Regions from separate parts of the Homo sapiens genome. Here region 2 is reported to be linked to region 1. The links are microRNA targets in miRTarBase. Many come from high-throughput screens and were not tested one by one. Region 1 holds a microRNA gene; the other region holds the end of a gene's coding sequence.

Region 1 (4,065 bases):
TCAATTGGTCTTGGTTAGATTTTTATTTCTTTTTTTTAATTTCTTTTTTTTTTTTTTTTTTTGAGACAGGGTCTTGCTTTCTTCCCCAGGCTGGAATGCAGTGGCATTATCATAGCTCACTGCAGCCTCAGGCTCCTAGGCTCAAGTAGTCCTCCCACAACAACCTCCAAAGTAGCTGGGACTGCAGGCACATACCACCATGCTTGGCTAATTATTATTTTTTTTAGAGGCGAGGTCTCACTGTGTTGCCCAGGCTGGTCTCAAACTCCGGGTTTCAGCCTGTGCCCGGCCTTCTTTCATATAAAACCAGGATCCAATTAAAGCCTATGTAAACTTAAGATGTATGTATTAACTGAAGAAAAAACAGAGCATGCATCATTCAACATTCATTCAGCAAATGATTATTTAGTGCTGGACACTGTTTTAGGTACTGAACAAACTGTAGATAGAACAAACAAGGTCCATCTCTCATGGAGCTTACATTCTAGTGGGACAGGGAAGAGACAAAAAATAAGCAAGTAAATAAGGTCATTTCGAACGATAAGTGCAATGAAGGAAAATAGGATAATGTTTTCCCAGCACCATTTATTGAGTAGGGAAGCCTTTCCCCATTCTTTGTTTTCATCAGGTTTGTCGAAGATCAGATAGTTGTAGGTGTGCGGTCTTATTTCTGTATTCTCTATTCTGTTCTATTGGTCTGTGTGTCTCTTTTTGTACCAGTACCATGCTGTTTGGTAACTGTAGCACTGTAGCATAGTTTGAAGTCGGGTAGCATGATGCCTCCAGCTTTGTTCTTTTTGCTTAGGATTTGCCTTGGCTATTCAGGCTCTTTTTTGGTTCCCTATGAATTTTAAAATAAAATTTCCTAGTTCTGTGAAGAATCTCAGTGGTAGTTTAATAGTAATGGCATTAAGTCTATACATTGCCTTGGGCAGTGTGGCCATTTTAACGATATTGATTCTTCCTATCCATGAGCTTGGAATGTTTTTCCATTTGTTTGTGTCATCTCTGGTTTCTTTGAGCAGTGGTTTGTAGTTCTCCTTTCACCTCCCTAGTTAGCTGTATTCATAGGTATTTTCTTTTCGTGGCAATTGCAAATGATGGGAGTTTATTCCTGATTTGGCTCTCTGCTTGGCTGTTATTAGTGTATAATAATGCTAGTGATTTTTGCACATTTATTTTGTATCCTGAGACTTTGTTGAAGTTGTTTATCAGCTTAAGAATCTTTTGGGCTGAGACTATGGGTTATCTAGATATAAGATCATGTTGTCTGCAAACAGGGATAGTTTGACATCCTCTCCTCAATCCCATTACTGGGTATATACCCAAAGGAATATAAATCATTCTATTATAAAGACACATGCACACACATGTTCATTGCAGCACTATTCACAATAGCAAAGACATGAAATCAACCTAAATGCCCATCAATGATAGACTGGATAAAGAAAATGTAGTACATATACACCATGGAATACTATGCAGCCATAAAAAAGAACGAGATCATGTCCTTTGCAGGGCCATGGATGGAGCTGGAGGCCATTATCCTTAGCAAATCAATGCAGGAACAGAAAACCAAATACTGCATGTTCTCACTTATAGGTGGGAGCTAAATGATGTGGACACATGAACCCATAGAGGGGAACAACACATGTTGAGGCCTATCAGAGGGTGAAGGGTGGGAGGAGGGAGAGGATCAGGAAAAATGACTAATGTGTACTAGGCTTAATACCTGGGTGATGAAATAATCTGTGCAACAAAACCCCATGACACAAGTTTACCTGTGTAACAAATCTGCACATGTACCCCTGAACTTAAAGTTAAAAAAAAAAAGAAAAATAGGATAATGTGATAGAAAGTTAAGGAGTCAGCTAAGGCTATTTTGAGATGGTCAGGGAAGTATTTTCTGATAAAATAGCACTTGAGCTATGACCCTAATGGCAAGGAATCATCCTATTGGCCAGAATGTAATTGTGGGGGAGTGATATGAGAGGGAGATGAGGAGTGTAGAAGATATCAAAAATGTAGGCAGAGGCTATGTCATGTTTAGGCCTTCATGGGCCTTGGTACTGTTTGGATTTTATCTAATACTTAAGAGTCCATGAAACATTTTTTTTTTTCTAGAAGAATCTGTGTAAGATTGGTAGTATTCTCCAAATTCTGGGGGAGGAATTCAGTGCTCGAAGATATTGCAAGTCCTACAGAAATTTCACTGGCACGTTAAATCTTTAACATTTTAATAATCTCTGGAGTAATTTCATTATTGAGCCTATTGTGATCATATCCTGATACTTGTATAAGTGCCACCTAAATAATTAATGTGCCTTGAGTCCTTTATCTGTCTAAAATGGTTATAATGACCTTCCTCTAACAAACTCTGTGATGTGCACAAAGAATTATGGTTTTTTTTCCTCAGTATCAAGAGTAGCATTCAAATTGCTGTGCTTCTATAAATAGACAACTTAAGATTGAGAAGAGTATTGTATTGAGATTTGCAAATATATGATTGTCTTATTTTACCCTAATTTTTTCCAGCAGAAATGCAGTATCCATTTCTAACCTCCCAAATATATATATATATGTACGTATGTGTATATAAATGTATACGTAGATATATATGTATTTTTGGTGGGTTTAATTTTTTTCATCTTTTTTCATAGTTTTTTTAGGGGCTTCATTTAACTTCTGGTTAAGTCTTGATTTCTTTTATCTAAAGCATGTAGAATTTTAAGAAAACTATTCCCTGAATGTGGTTTTCTGTGTTATAAACTTTTGTATTTGTGCATATTTATGGAGCAATGCTTTGGGGAAAATAACAATTTTTATTCAGCCCCTTGCTTAAATCCTTAATCCTTTTTAGCTATAAAAGTACGTAGAAGTTCTTATCGTCCATTACAGTTTTTTAATGTTAAAAAGTTGAGCAAGTTTTCACATTTAAAGGTAAATATCCTATTGCAGAATAATAGAATATTGCTGATGGGTAACTTTCTTATGCAAATTACATTGTCCCATTTGGCATAAAATTTCTGAGCATCTATCAGTATTCAGAAATCTAAGCCCTTTAGGCTGGGCACAGTGGCTCACACCTATAATCCCAGCACTTTGGGAGGCTGAGGTGGGTAGATCACTTGAGGTCAGGAGTTCAAGACCAGCCTGGCCAACAAGGTGAAACTCTGTCTGTACTAAAATTACAAAAATTAGCCAGGTGTGGTGGCACGCGCCTATAATCCCAGCTACTCGGGAGGCTGAGGCAGGAGAATCACTTGAACCCGGGAAGCAGAGGTTGCAGTGAGCCAGGATTGTGCCACTGCACTCCAGCCTGGGTGACAGAGTAAAACTCTGTCTCAAAAAAAAAAAAAAAAAAAAAAGAAGAAGAAGAAATCAAAGCCCTTTAAGGGCCTTTGATTTATTAATGCTACATTTTCTCATTTGTACCCCTTTAAAGCATATTTTTAAAGAAAAGATGTCATCATTTGGTCTCTATTTCTTTTCTTTTTCAAACAGGAAACAGAGAACACTGCATACAAAGTTGGAAATGAGTCCCCTGTACAAGAATTGAAACAAGATGTGTCTAAAAAGGTTGGAAAGATACAATGTCAATATTAGTTTATAGCAGACATCATATTTATATGGTATATTTCAAACAGCTTTTATATTCTTTTAGTATAGCGCTCTGTACATGGCTGATGTTCAGCAAATGTTTCATGAATCTGTCACATTTGTGGTTGAAGACATTTCAGTCTTTTTAGAAGTCCTTTTCATATTCTAATTGGTAATTTATCCTTGAGACAATATTTTGTAAAATGCTTTTATTTTTTGTTCTTGTATTTTTATCAGAATAAGCCCTAACTCTTCTTGAGGTTACTACCAGGAGTTATGGGTATTGAAAAGCTCAGTGCAGCAACATTCTGATGTCTTTAGGAATCAGAAGTTATAAGAAGTCCTTACTCTGATAGTACCTGATACCTTTTAAAAAATTGATGCTATGAAGCTTCAAAGGTTGGTTTACTAGAAGAGACTGAGCACAAGATCAGTATTTTGAAAATGGGCAGTTTACAGTATCAG
Region 2 (4,065 bases), not on the chromosome of region 1:
GCCCCGCCCACCCCATCCCTGGAGAGCCTGTCCCCGGCGCCCCGCCCAGTCACTCCGAGGCCCCGCCCACCCCTGAAGACCCGCCCACAACCCCGAGAGGCCCCGCCCGCAACCACAAGAGGCCCCGCCCAGCCGACCCCTCGGAGCTGACCTGGTCGGCCCCACCCTCAGTGTCCCCCTGTTCCCCCAATGCCCCTGCCTGGAGCCGTGGACTCCCTACCAGCGCCCAGCCAGGAGCCAAAGCAGCTCAGGAAGAGAGGCTTGCTTTTTAAAATTTATTTTAAAACATGAAACCCAAGCTGAATAGAAACCACAGAAATTACATTGACGAGATTTTTAGTATTTGCCAAGAAAAAAAGCCCCCAAAGAAATAAAAATCAGCCCCCAAACCCAGTTCTAAAAAAACAAAAAAACACAGCGACAGTACATACAGCCATGGCCCTACAGAGGCTGGAGGAGGGGGAAATGCAAAATGGTTCAGGCCTCAGTTCCTGGATGTTAAATCACACTGGGGTGGGGGAGGTCAGATGCCCAGGCCGGGGGGGTAAACCAGGAGGCTGAGTCTTAAGGAGATTATATATATATATATTATATATAACAAATATGAAGTGGTTCAGTACACAACCATTATGGTTAAACACAAAACAAAGATCCCACAGGAGAGGCCCTGGTCCCCCGCCTGCCCCCTTGTCTGGGGTTCTGGGGTCCAGGGGGCTGCCTCACCACCCCTCTCAGGGCTGGGGCAGAGCTGGCCCCAGGGCAGGAGCAAATGTTGCTTGGAACTCGAATTGCATAGTGAGATGGGTGGGTGGGCAATGGGCCAGGGGCTGCTCCCAACCAGGCCCATTCACTACCAACCTTGCCATGACATGTGGGGGGCCCTGGGGTAGTGGATGCCTGCTGGGGAGCACTCTCAGTGAGGTAAGCCCCTGGGCTCCTCCCTCTTGTCCCCAGGGCCACCCTGTCCTCCCAACGAGGCTGTGGGCCTGGGGGCTGCAAGACCCCCTGTGCAGGGTGAGAGTGGGGGCTGGCCATGGCAGCAGGCACCAGCCAGATGCCCCAGTAGGTGTGGCGAGGTCATGGGATGGAGTAGTTAGGAACACGGCACCGAAAACTCAGAACAAAAATACAACCAATGGCAGGCGCTCCCCTCCACCTACTGAGGTGGGGTTTGAACCCCTTTTGATTTTCCCCGTTTCCTTTCTTCAACCTTGGTGAGTAGAAAGTCACAGACGGGCACACACGCACACCACGGTCAGGAGTCCCGAGACAGCACGAGGCTGGAAGCCCTGGCCTCACCGCCTCTCACGCTATGTCCATTCACCTGGCAGGCAGCCTCACGGCCATGGACAGCATTTGTGCTTCTGAGCGGTCGCAGGGCGTTTGGCGGGCACCCACGCCAGGGTGCCAGGGCCTCTCTCCTGGCCCTAGGCCTGGAGAACTCCCCTGGCGGGTCAAGCCCAGAGGAAAGACTGGGCAGGTTGGCTGTGGCGGGGCCTCCGAGGGGGGCTCAGAATGTCAGCCAGGCGGGGCCTGAAGCAGAGGCCCCTCCACTGAGGTTTGGTCATGCCTGGGGAGCTCAGACGCCCCGGCTTGGGGCCCCAGGCCCATGGACTCCCCTCCCCACTCTGCCCTCCCATATTCCCCCTTTTTGGTCCCAGACACCAGCACAAAGAAAGGAGGGGTTCACAGAGGAAGGCCAGGGCAGAGCCTGGCCCCAGGGAGGGGATGAGGACATTTCCGGTCCAGGTAGCTGCCGGCTGCTCTGGGAGGAAGAGCCATGCGTCTGTAAACTGCTGGGGCTGGCGGCCCGCCCCACTGCAGGGCCCAGCCTTGACCCCTGCACGTGGCCATCCAGCTGCCCTCTGGCTGCCCCTGGCCTTGGCACAGGCATCGAGCCTCGAGGGCTGGGCTGGCTGGGCCAGGGCCGGGACCGGGAGGGGTAGCACGTCCGATCCTGATGTGGGGTGGCTCTGCCCTCCACGGCGGGAAGCACAGCAAACATCGTACACTAAAGCCAAAAGCACCATTGGGGAGCCTCGCTCCCACTTCATGGGGAGGAGACCGAGGCCACAGGGACCTCAGTCCAAAGCCCGCGGGAGGTTCATTCCCGAGGACAGTCCTCCTGGGGCAGCACCTGCCTGGGGAGGGGTGTCCAGGCCCTTGGGCTGCCTGTCGGTCTGTGGCACCCCCTGGAGCACCCCATGAAGAAACGCTACTGCAGCCTTGACTCCCAGACAGCTGCTCCGGCCTCGGCTCCAGCCCGGACTTGGGCTCACACTGCCGGCTCTGGGCCAGCTAGGGGCACCCGTGGAGTTTGGGGGTGAGGTTAGTGGTTAGTCCCAAGGGGGGACAGCAGGGGCTGAGGGATGTTCACAGCCGGCTCGGGTCCAGCCCCTCAGGCCGGGCTCCTGGGATGCTGTACCTGTCATGGATGGAAATGGAACCAAGAAGGGAGGGAAGGGGGGTGCCAGCGGTCCCCCTCAGCCCGCAGCCCCAGCCTGCCCTAGAGATGACAAATGTGGTTAGTGCAAAGAACGAACCAGACACAGCTGCCCAGTCTCTGGGTGGGGGAAGGGGGTTTGGCACCAAGAAGGCGGCCAGCACTGGGTGGCGGGTGAGCGGCCCGGGCTCCACGTGGCCCCTGCTGTCCACGGAGGGCTGGGGCCTCCAGCAGGGCAGGTGCTGAGGGAGAGAGTGAAGCTGGGGCAACGGAGAGAGGCCCTGCTGGAGGGGGCCTCTGGCAGCCGGCAGGAGGGGTGAGCCTGTGGGTGGGCGGGCTGCACAGGCGAGGAGGGCACTGCAGAGAGATGGGCACGTGGAGGGACCACGGGGTGACCTCAGGGCAGAGATGAGCAGGTGGCACGTGTCCCTGTCCCTCAGTGGCCAGCAGGCGCCAGCACAGAGCGGCCCCAGCCGTGCCTGTGAACTAAGAAGGGGTCCACAGAAGTGCCGGGCGGGAGGAAGGAGAGCTGTGGAGGGAAGGGCCGGGCGGCAACAACACAGGTTGGGTGCGGCCAGGGCTTGTAGGTGCGGCGACCATCTGCAGAGGGAGCGTGCCGGGATAGTGGGTGGCGTGCAGGGCTGGGGCATCGGCTGGCAGCAGCGTTCAGGTGTGACCCGAGTTGGCGGTACGGGCCCAGAGCCCCTGCGTCTCCACTGTGCCCCTGCGGGGAGGGGACAGGAGGGCAAGCGGCCTGCAGACGCGTCTGGGGCAGGCCTGGCACGGCGTGCGAGGGTCCGGTGGGTGGCCCAGGTGGAAGCGGCAGTGCTGGCACGGGGAGGGGAAGTTGGCACGTGGGGTGGGTGGCTGCCGGGCGCGGTCTAGTGGCTGCCGCTGGAGTCAGGGCGAGGCTGGCTCGTGGCGAGGTATTTGGCTCTCATGCTGGAGGTGTACTGGAGGGAGACAAGGGGGAGGCATCAGCAGGGCCCCTGCATGGCGCACGCAGCCAGGGGCGCCTTCCGCGTGGTCCTCACTTGGCTGAGCCAACAGCCCTGGGGGCAGAATGGGACAGTACAGGGTGCCCTGACAGAGCCTATAGGGAGGGGCTAAGGAGGGGCCGCTGGCTGGGGGCCCCTGCGCTCTAGGTCTGGCTGAGGCTGAGGGAGGGGCAGCCCCCGAACTCTCCAGGCTCAGGACAGGGGATGTCTCCTCTGAGGAGGGGCGTACACACAGCCTCCCATGCCCACACCAGCGGCATTTGGGCATTGGGCCAGGCAGAGTTCTGCCACCCCCAGGAGCCACAGCTCCAAGGCCCTACCTGCACCTTACGCACCCAGGACCTGAAGGACACAAACCAGCCACCCTCCAGGGCCGGGCCAAGGCCTCCTCCGGGCTCAGGGCCGGGTCCACCTACAGCCAGGCCACAGCATGCAGGAGTACGGAGGCCCCAGCCTGAGGACATCCCCCGGGCTACTCTGCCCCTTCACGCCATGGAAGGAGGGCCCCTTAAGCCACACAGGAGGCTGGAGCAATGCAGCCCCCCCTCCCGTGGGGGACCCAACTGTGGGCTCCTGGGGGTCTTGGACTTAGGAACAGAGGCGGCTGCAGGGGGCGCTGTCCTG

What was found. The annotated mature microRNA hsa-miR-1277-5p reads AAAUAUAUAUAUAUAUGUACGUAU and lies in region 1 at 2,566-2,589, shown strand. An mRNA with a match to its seed (bases 2 to 7 or 8) in the 3' UTR can be bound and repressed. Matches are read on the target gene's strand: a 7mer-m8 pairs with bases 2 to 8, a 7mer-A1 pairs with bases 2 to 7 and ends in A, and an 8mer does both.
Region 2: the mRNA of TTYH3 is a reported target of hsa-miR-1277-5p. The part of its 3' UTR that is shown has no 7-base or 8-base seed match.

The regions. Positions count from the first base shown.
Region 1 is chrX:118,383,836-118,387,900 of GRCh38, forward strand. MIR1277 (microRNA 1277) reads left to right here and starts at 2,559; the gene lies at 2,559-2,636. It overlaps WDR44 (WD repeat domain 44), which reads left to right. Exons shown (of 20, transcript NM_019045.5): 3 at 3,505-3,579.
Region 2 is chr7:2,660,999-2,665,063 of GRCh38, reverse strand. It overlaps TTYH3 (tweety family member 3), which reads right to left. Exons shown (of 14, transcript NM_025250.3): 14 at 262-3,396. The coding sequence ends at 3,325. Among named protein-coding and RNA genes, the nearest start is that of AMZ1, 25 kb to the left of the region's middle. RefSeq lists enhancers at 1-189, 3,853-3,952, 4,033-4,065.